2 separate regions of the Homo sapiens genome follow, and region 2 is linked to region 1. Evidence: fine-mapped expression QTL. A gene starts in region 1. The other region holds a variant in brackets. All regions are shown on one strand. Distances are from middle to middle. Region 1 holds the start of SHPRH (SNF2 histone linker PHD RING helicase). Region 2 overlaps GRM1 (glutamate metabotropic receptor 1).

Region 1 (5,387 bases):
CTTCAGATGTATTCTTTCAGCCTGATTCTTCCAATATTAGTGCCTCAAGGTACTTATCAGTGATAATGATAAACTGCAGAAAAGTCAACACCAGAATTTCTAGCAATGCTCTCCCTTTGTCCAGTTCTTAACTGAGTAAACATTCATGATCAAAAATCAACCAACCAAACAAAAAGCTCCTGGTTTTGACTGAGTCTTTACTTAAGGAAATCTCTATTCAGGGTTAACTTCTTGAACCAAAGAAAATAGTATTTGGTCAAATATACTTATGACTAAAATGCAATTTGGCAACTAGTAAGTCAAGTACTGGTGAAATTCTGTATCTAACCACATCCCATATTCTTCTGGTTTTATTCATACCTTATCAGTCACAACTACTTCTTCCTCCTCCTTAATTAGCAGTGTTTGGGTAAAACGTAATTATGTGAAGTTTTCTATATGGACCGCACTTTTACTGTCTTGTATTTAAATATAAAAGCCTTTTGCTTGAATTGCTTTTATGCCTGTCTCCATCCCAATCTTCCCTGGAAAGGCTTCCATGACTAGAGAAGCTGAGTTAAGGGCCTCTCTCTCCTCGATCCCAACTGCTAGAGTGTTCACTTTGAAAGATGGGCAGGAGTAGTATCCTATTCAGTGTTGTACTCCCAATGCCAGGTCAGTGCTAGGAAGTAAAGACATACAAAAAGGGTGAAACAAAGATCTCTAATTCCGTGGATGTATTCCCTCCTTTTGAGGACCTAACGATACTTTACTCTTATTTCTTTTTGGAGAAGTCTCTCTTATCCACATTCTAGAAGACTATAGGTAATATGAAACTAGTATTTCTGAGAAAAATGAAATACTAGAACGAGGCAGGGAAAACTGCCTGAACTGTATCTTTAACAGAAAACAAGGATGGAATGCTAGAAAAATAAACATAAAATGTTACATTACTAAGACAATCCAACAAATGAATAACACAACTTAAATTCACATTTTTTCCCTCCAAAATATTATTTCCTCTTTAAAAGATACACACAAATCTTGAATTACAACAAATCCATGGTAGATCTGGGTTTAGGCTATTAAGGGCAAAAAGGATTACATACTTGCCATATTCCTGTCCAAAATGTTGTGTTATGGAAATGAAGCCCACTCATTACTAAGTACTAGGAAGCTCTTAATGACCCAGGGTTAACATAATCTTTTCCTTTTCTGTAGAAATAATTCCAGCAAGGTGAGAGTATTTTCTTCTACTGAATGCTAAAATATGCTAGTTACATAAACTTTAAAAATGCCCTCATAAGAAGCTTTTTCACCAGCAAATTGTTTCCCCTAAATCTTACTGGCCTAAACTCTTAATAATAAAAGTTTTGTTTTAATAATTCTGTAAGTCCAGCTCCTTTCGGGTGGACAAAGAGGATATACAAGAGCATCTCTCAAAAGTAAACTATTTTATTCTCAATTGCCAGCTTACTGGTTAACTGGTCCTTTAAAGCTCTAGAAAGTGCAGGTTATCGAGCACAGACATAATCATTACAATACTGCTCAGGACTGCTCTGTCTCCAGCATGTTTACTAATCATAAACTAAATAGTCTTTTTTGTGACAGTAGAGATATCATGGATCGTTTCTATTCAAGAGTTTCATCATTCCTACTAATGCCCACTGGAATAATTTAAAGTAACAGTAATAACTTTATCTTATTTTGTTCAGAAAAAGCCCCAAGTTCCTTAAGTTCCTTAAGTACAAGTTGGAAGGCATCAAACATCTCGGATTTCTACCTCGTGCTAATGTCAAACTACTTGGAAAAAGGGCACAAGCTTCCTGGTCATTATTTAACTGATCATTATACAGTGACTATTAATCATCAAATAACACCCTATCTTCGTTCATAAACATAGCAACTACCAGTCAAACTGTACAATGTCAAAGAGTGGTTCTGAATTCGAATGTAATTAATCTGGCTCCAAAGGTAACGGAGAACTTTGAGTGGGACTGAGAAACCTCTGCCTCCCCTTTTACTAATACAATGCCGCGCACAAAGAAGGGAGGCGGCGACCCAGTTCCAGCCTCCGGGGGTAGATCTGCGGCGCACGGTACCCACTCAGTTATCTTCCGAAAGACCCACAAGCGGCTCCCGGAGTCTGAGCGGGGCTGTCAGCGCCGGATCGCTCCCAGCAGGCCGAGCAAACAAGCGACCGCGAGGCCAAGGAGCGTGACGACGGACTCCCGGATCCTAGTGTGTTGGACGCTCGAGACAAACACCGCAGGCCCCAGTGCATGAGGAGAAGCACAGCCTCCTTTCCCACGACCCCACTTTATCCCCGGAGGGACGTGGTGGTCCGAAGTTCGCTAGTCCGGGATCGGGAAGAGGTGGGGAAGACTCGCGCAGCGGCTCCCTCTCAGCCCTTGAGCTTCCCGGGCTCCAGGACAACCAGCGTCCTCCCTCCCTGGTCCCGGAGGCCAAAGACCACCTCCCTCCCTCCCTCCCGACCTCTGACCCCTGACCTTCCATCACCCAAGCGCCTACCCAAGCTGGTTCTCCGAGCCTCTTGAGTCTGTTTGCACCAGGCCTGCGCTCCTCTACAGACCCAGCAGATCACGGGCACGCATTCGCCACCCACCGAACATGGGCTTGAGGTGGGCACGAGCGCTTTTTGCCGGAACGTGTAGGGGTCCCCCGGGAGACCCAGAAACCACAGCGCCTAGCTGCCGGGCGCGCGCTGTAGCGTGGGGTCAAGGCGAACGCGCTCGTCAGAGCACCCCGCCCCCTTTCTCCTGCGCTGGCTTCATGAGTCTCTTCTGCGCAAGTTCACACTGTTAAAAACTTGCTGAGGATACAGTGGAGTCTCGCGATAGCTCTGCCCCACGCCATTAGAGAACACAGGATGGCCGAATGCCCGAAGTAGGGGGCGGGGCTCCCCTTGAAGCGAAGGGCGTGTGTGATTTGTATCTCTAATAAAAAGGCAGGGGCCAGGAGCGGTGGCTCACGCCTGTAATCCCACCACTTTGGGAGGCCGAGGCGGGCGGATTTCCTGAGGTCAGGAGTTGGAGAACAGCCTGGCCAAGATAGCGAAACCCCGTCTCTACTAAAAATACAAAAATTAGCCGGGCGTTGTGGTGCGCGCCTGTAGTACCCGCCTGTAGTCCCAGCTGCTCGGGAGGCTGAAGCAGGAGAATGCTTGAACCTGCGAGGCAGAGATTGAGTAAGCCGACATCTCCCCACTGGGTGATAGAATGAGACTCCGTCTCACAAAAGAAAAGCAGAAAAGAATTCTGCAAAAGCATCTATTTTACTGCTATAAAGCAGCCACTAAGTAGGTACGAATAAAGCTTCTCCCCCTCAAAAACAGACTTTAAAGGGAAATGTGAATAAATATTCAAAGATGAGAGAAACTATTAAATACATGTGTTGCGCTGAAGCTGGCCTTCCACTATTGGTCTTTTTTCCTCTCACCTCTTCCTCATAGAAGTGACCTTAATGTTGGAATAACTCTGAGAGGCTTCAGGGTCAGGAGCCTGTGAAATAACCCTCAGGAAACACTGGGGACTCAGTACTTAGTTAGTGAGTACCTAATAGCAGCTTTTCTGCTGTGGAGGCCTTTTGGGTTGTGTGACCACAGAAGCACTTGAACTAAGTTCTTGTCCAAGTGAATATCGGTTGTAGTTGTGTTAGACAGTCCAGGGTAGTCCATATTTTACTTAGTATATTCCTTTATCACAGATACGAAGCTGTTTCCATAAGCAAATCCCCGCCTCCTTTTATTTTGCTTCCCTTTATTGTACTTTGCAGATAATATGTTTTCCTATAAATTGAAGTTTTTTGGCAACCTTACTCAAGCAAGTCTGTCAGCATCATTTTTCAAGCAGCATGTGTTCACTTGCTGTTCATCTGTTATGGTGATCTATGATTAGTTATCTTTGATGTTACTATTGTAGTTTTTTGGGAGCATTACAAACTCTGCTCATAGAAGATGCTAAACTTAATAAATGTTGTGTGTGTTCTGAAAGCTTCACTATTGGCGCCTGTCTCTCTTCCTCTCTTCAGGCCTCCCTATTCTTTGAGACACAACAATATTGAAATTAGGCCAATTAATAACCCTACAATGGACTATTAAGTGTTCAAGTAAAAGGAAGGGTGGCACATCTCTCACTTTAAATCGAAAACCGAAGGAATTTAGTGAGGAAGCCATGTCAAAAGCTGAGATAAGCCAAAAGCTAGGCCTCTTGTACCAAAGTTAGCTAAGTTGTGAATGCAAAGGAAAAGTTCTAGAAGGGAATTAAAAGTGCTACTCCAATGAAAACACAAATGATAAGAAAACGAAACAGCCTCATGCTGATATGGAAAAAGTTTTAGTGGCCTGAATAAAAGATAAAACCAGCCTCAGCATTCCCTTAAGCCAAAGCCTAATCCAGAGCAAGGCCCTAACTTTTTTCAGTTCTGTGAAGGCTGAGAGAGGTGATGAAGCTGTAGCAGAAAAATGTGAAGCAAGCAGAGGTTGGTTCATGAGATTTAAGAAAAGAAGCCATCTCCATAACATCAAAGTACAAGGTGAAGGAGCAAGTGCTGATGTAGAAGCTGTGGCAAGTTTTTCAGAAGATCTAGCTAAAATAATTGAAGCAGGTGGCCACACAAAACAACAGATTTTCCATGTAGATAAGACAGCTTTCTATAGAAAGAAAAGGCCATCTAGGACTTTCATAGCTTCTAAGCTTCACAGGACAGGTTGACTCTCTTGTTAGGGGCTAATGCAGCTAATGACTTGAATTTGAGGCCAATACTCATTTATCATTCTGAAACTCCTAGGGCCCTAAAGAGTTATGCTAAATCTATTCTGTCTGTACTCTATAAATGGAACAATGAAGTGTGGATGACAGCACATCTACTTAACAGCATAGATGTACAGGATATTTTAAGCCCACTGTTCAGACCTACTGCTCAGAAAAAAAAAAGATTCCTTTCAAAATATTACTGCTCATTTATAATGCACCTGGTCACCCAAGAGCTCTGATGGAGATGTACAAGGAGATTAATGTTGTTTTCATGCCTGTTAACACAAAACCCATTCTGCAGCCCATGGATCAAGAGTAATTTTAACTTTGACATCTTATTATTTAAGAAGTAATAAGGCTATGGATGACATAGATAGGAATTCTTCTGATAGATCTAGACAAAGTAAATTAAAAACTTCTGGAAAACATCCACCATTCTGTATGTCATTAACAACATTTGAGATTGGTGGGAGAGGTCAAAATATCATTAATAGTAGTTTAGAAGAAGTTGATTCCATCTCTCAGGAACTCAAAGTCTCAGCTTTGAAGGGATTGAGACTTCAATGGAGGAAGTAACTGCAGATGTGGTGGAAACAGCAAGAGAGCTAGAATTAGAAGTGGGGTCTGAAGATA
Region 2 (5,387 bases), 89 kb after region 1:
TAAATGCACACTGGGTCTTCCTTTTCTGTTTTCTTCATGTGTGTCTCTCTAGAAAATGTGTGTCTCTCTAGAAAAGGCAGTTCTACTCTAAAGCTTGCTCCTGTTTGGCTGCAAGTAACAGATAGAGGGAGGCATTGTCAGAGGGTAAGAGTAGCTACACACTGATTTGTTTTAAAGCACACTTGATCCTTGAAAAACCTTCAAACACAGTAACTCCTGGAAATGATGATAAAAAGACATGCCTTCTTTTCTTCTGTATTTAGAACAATTCTATAATTAAAAGAAACAAACATATCCATATTTCTAAAAACAAGGGATATTTTTAAGAGGGGGGAGGGGAAGAAAAGCTATATCTTCTCTTTGGAAATTTCCAGGGCATTAGTAATGGGAGTTTACTGCATTTTGAAATTTGACAATACTCTTAGCTGCTCATTCTCCAAAGCAGAATCTACACACTGCCAATTAATTTTCCATTGTAGTGTTAGTTCATGCAGAAGCCAGCCTCTCTTACTTAGTCCCTAGTGTGATTACGGCATATGCCTATGAGATTCCTGTTTGTTTGTTCATTTGCTTTTGTGGAAGGAATTCCGGTATTAGGCTCATTTGATTGGACCAAATAAAGCTGATGACCTGTGAACCTGTGATCCAGTGAGGAGGATACATAGAGTCTATGGTTTCATAACAGAGCGTTGCAATCAACCCTTCCTGGGAAGGTCTACCAGTGACTTTGGCTTACCAAAAGAGCTACTAGCCTTTTAAATTTTGGTTCCTCCATTTGTAGTTATAGTTCAAGCAGACACATAATAAAAAGTCTGGGTATGAAGGAGGGGGATTAGTGGTTAATAAGGAGACTTGGACTCAGACACATCTGCTTTCTTACCCTATCTTAGAGCCGTGTGACTTTAGGTGAGTCACTGAGACTCTCTAAACCTACTCCTCAAATCTGCAAACCAGAGATTATAATTGTACTTACTTCTCATGCAGCTAACAAGATAATGGCTAGCATATAATAAGAACTCAATAAAATACATAAACATACACACATAAGCTAATAAGGTGGTGGTCTGATATTGTGTATCCTACAGTGGTTAGCTTCTATTGGAAGTGACTTCCCCTCCATCTGTAAATATGATACAGTGCTCATCCTAAGTCTTTTTCAGAGACCTACACTGGAGCTAGCACATAATTTACTGATAAAGGGGAAAAGAGGAAGATTCATATAGAGAATAGACTGAGAGCCTCTTAGGCATCTAACTGCTCCCATCCCTTGACTGCTTTGCATCTGGAAAATTTGCAGTGTTTAATATGCTCCTGTTAAAAGGTAATGCCTTTGGAAAATATAGCACTTAAAGCTATGATCAGTTATGACTTCAAGATTTTCAGATAAGTGGTTAGGGGGTCATGACAGAGTAGTGCCTGCAGCGGGGAGCCAGTCCTTCACAGGCCAGTTGGAAGACATCAAAGGTTATTCCTATTTCATAATTGTTAGTGGATTTTAGCTATGAACATATGTATAGCATTTCCTGAAGTTTCCTGAGAATCATCTTTAATCATCATCACTACTGTTTCCCAAGCACCCTTATATAATCTTCTTGGTTTATATAAACTAATGGCTTCTACTCTGTACAAGGTTGCGATTTGAAAAGGCACTGGGAAGAAAATACCAGTTGCAAAGGGTGGTGGAGGCTGAAGTCATGTCAACAAGATCATAAGGCTGAAACCAGATATTTGTAATGCTGCTTGTAACTTTCTCGAGAGTAGGATATATCTTATATCTCTTCTGATTTATATAGCACTTATTACAACTCCTTGTACATAGGCTGAAAATGTTAGTTTAAATAAATTGACATTACAAAGTAGGATTTTTTTAAATTTTAAATCAGAGTTGTGAGGCTGTGAGGAAAACATGTTCTTTATTTGTCTGAGGGAAAGAATTAGAGATTGGGAGCAATTTCTGTAACCAAACTTTCCTCAATATTATATTTACTTTATTACATTCCATTTTCTTAGTCATTTATGGGCCATAAATTCAGCCTCTCTGTTGTTTATAACTTAAGTTTTTATTTTTTAATTTTTGTTTAGGGCACTGGTTGTCACTTCTGGCTGCTCATTACATTTATCTAGGGAGCTTTAAAACCTATAGATGCCCAGCCCCAGCCGTGGAGGCTCTGCTGGAGCCTGGAAATCAGACTCAGGTGTTCACAGCCCTTCCCATGGGGAGAAGGATGGGGAGTTAGGGAGAGAAAGGGGTAAAGAGTGTGTCTAGCATTGCAAATGTATAGGGTGAGTCTGCCTAGTATCATCTGGTATCACCTATCCCATCCCACTCAGCCATGGGTCTCCTTGCCATCCTTGAGCACATGAAGGATGTACCCTCATTAATGCCTTGGTGTTGGCTGTTTCCTCCAGCTGAAATCCACTTTCTTCAGC[T/C]ATTTTTGTGGCTGGCTGCTTCTTTTCATTTAGATCTTAATTCAAATATCATTTCCTCAGGAATCCCTTCTCTATATAAAGTATAACCCTTCCCCTTTCACTTTCTATCCTGTTGCTTTGTTGTGTTTACTTTGTGCCATTTCCTACTATTGGAAATTATCTCATTTATGCAATTCTTTACATATTTGTTGTTATACTCACCTACTAACAGGACACCGTCATATTTCCAGAACCTAGAACAATGCCTGATGCCCCAAAAGCTTGAAGTATACATTTTTGAAATAAAAAAACCCCGGGGTTTTATGTTTATAACAGGAAAGACAAATATGTGACTAGACATTGCTAATTGACCTACGGTACCCTTTCTCCCAGATTCTGTAACATAGTTCTCAGCACCATTCTCAGTTATCCATCATTAGCCTTCAGATGGAAACTTCTTTTATACCCCTGGTTTAAAAAGTAATTTTTTGTACCTAGCTTATTTCATTTAGGAAATTAAGGCTCAAATAGGTTTAGCAAATTTTATTTTTTTATTCTTTCTTTTAAATCATTCACTTCACAATACTTATTGAGAATTTAGAATACAAGAAGCAATATTTTGTACAAGGTTTTGCCCAACATGTCTCCAGAACTTTGATTTTGTGCTATGCTTGGTCATAATATATTTTTCAATATATATTTGCAGAATTTAATTCAATAGAGAGCTTAAAACTGATTTAAATTACTTTATGTAAGGCATATATGACAAATGTAGGTGGGATGATTATAATGTAGATTATAGGATCGACTTAGAGGCTGAAGGGATTTCAGATTATCTATTCCAGGAACCTCATTTTGCAGATGAGGAAGTTAAAAACCGAGATATAATAGTTTGTTTTTCATGCATGCTTGAAGGATGAATAAAGGACTGATGGACTGAATCCTGCTGAACGTTATGTGAGTTTTTTTGTGGCACAGCAGATCTCTGAACCCAGTTCTTGGTCCAGGGCTCTTTCATCCCCACCTGTGATCCCCAAATGCATGCAATTAGAAACATCTGGGGATATTGCAAAACATGCTGGGAATGGTGTTCTGGGACTCATATTTTTATAATCCCCTTCCTCCTTAGGTAATTCTGCTGCACAGCCAAATTTGGGACCACTATGTACGTGATATTATTAGTATATGAATGTGCCTCAGTTTTAACTGAAGAGATAAGGAGGTTCCATATAATGTATGGAGAATACCATTTGTAGGACTTTCAAAGAAACCCTCTACTTTTTGCTTAGCTACACAGTACCAGTCTGAGCTAAATCTCAATAAACTAAAGACTTGCTTCTGACATTTAATTAAATCCAACAGTTATTGACTATGAGAGATAAAAAATGAATAAGATATACTTCTTAATATAGATTATTTAAATCCTGCTTAAATAGAGGACAATAAATTACAGAACCTTGATATTCCCCTGAATTTTAGATACTCATGATTTGTTGGGCTGTCAGCAATGTGTCTTATACCTTGCAAGGTGCACAGGGATGTTTGATTTGTTCTGATTTACTCTCACATGAAAGTATCAGCTTTTTCACTTAAACTGTCATGGAATTATCTACCAGTACTCAAAGTACTCTTTCATTATTTACATTCTCTGGATGATTGGAAGAAGAAATGGAAAACAAGCATCATATATTTTCTCTCCCATATTTTCAGATTGAGCAGTGATATATTTCATTATATAAAATATAATAATTATAAAACAGATTTAATTTTTCTATGGAGGTAGCAAGCTGTTTCCATAGCAAGCTCTGCTTTTCCTGACCAGCTTTCCCTTTCTGTACCTTATATTTTATCCAAAATTATCTGTCAGCAGTAAAATATTCTATCCATAGACAATTCTCTATATGCTCTTCACAGAATGTTCAGCCTAACATAGTTTATGTCAGGGGGCATAGACATTCATTTCTCACATTTATGGAGAGGAGAAAGGGAAAGAAACATTTTAGACGGTTGTTAGACTCCAACAGCCATTGGGAGATCCAATGTACACTGGGTGCAATATATATTTTTATATTTGTTTTTTAATGCTCTACCAGAAATGTTTTATAGAAAGAATAGGACAAAGATTCAACTGACAGAACAACATATGTGTGTATAATTTTTCCCCAGAGGAAAAAACTAGGGATTTTAAGGAGAGGGAAGTCTGTGTCATTGTTAGTGTCAGCGACAGTTGTCTCTCTTATCTGCTATGGCAGGGAAGATGCAGGGGTGGGTGTGGAGGGCAAGTGATGGGTGCGGGTAATAATTGGGGGTGGAGGGGAGCTGAGTGCTGGATGAGTGAGGAGATAGGAATGGGGCGATTTGCCTTGGGTTCACGCTAAGCTTCCAATAAATGTAGGAATCTGCATTTCTTGTTCATACTGTGTTACGGGCAATTAATACAGCACCTGGCACATATGAGCTATTTTTTTAAAACATGTTGAATAAATGTATACTTGAAAATGTATGTTGAATATCTGCTTACAGAATTATGCCATACTTTTTGGGAAAAATTAAGGTTAATAAATAGGATGAGTGGTATTTAGATGTGTGTATTGCTTCTAGCATAATATTATGGATACAACTGGCACATAAGGAAGTTCTGTGGCCCAACCTCTAGCATGGATGTTGAGTTAAGTCTTACATATTTTAATATTTTAAATACATTTGAAATAACTAACCACACCTTTTTTTAATTTTTAGGAAAGCGTGCTCTTATTTTCATTTTCCATTAAACAATTTTTCCTGAGAATGAGAAATTTCATCCAAAATCAAAGTTATTCCAAAATCATGACTTTCAATTCCTAACATGTCGTGTTAACTTTATTATTCTTTCTTTTATAGATATCAACTCTTGGATTGAAATTTTAAATGCAAATTCAATGAGTCTTTCACTGAGTGGTATGTGTTTGTGTTTGTGGGAACAGAATTGAAGGGCTGGG

What was found. PIP is the estimated chance that this variant, and not a neighbour inherited with it, causes the effect. A credible set is the group of variants that fine-mapping cannot tell apart.
Region 2: its variant is the best candidate, but not a certain one, in a credible set for the expression of SHPRH in whole blood (INTERVAL, PIP 0.58).

The regions. Positions count from the first base shown.
Region 1 is chr6:145,961,646-145,967,032 of GRCh38, forward strand. It overlaps SHPRH (SNF2 histone linker PHD RING helicase), which reads right to left and starts at 2,713. Exons shown (of 30, transcript NM_001042683.3): 1 at 2,086-2,713. RefSeq lists enhancers at 2,230-2,359, 2,470-2,689, 2,601-3,588, 3,140-3,189.
Region 2 is chr6:146,050,249-146,055,635 of GRCh38, forward strand. All of the region lies in intron 1 of GRM1 (glutamate metabotropic receptor 1), which reads left to right. Among named protein-coding and RNA genes, the nearest start is that of GRM1, 24 kb to the left of the region's middle. The variant T/C (reference allele first, on the strand shown) is at 2,431.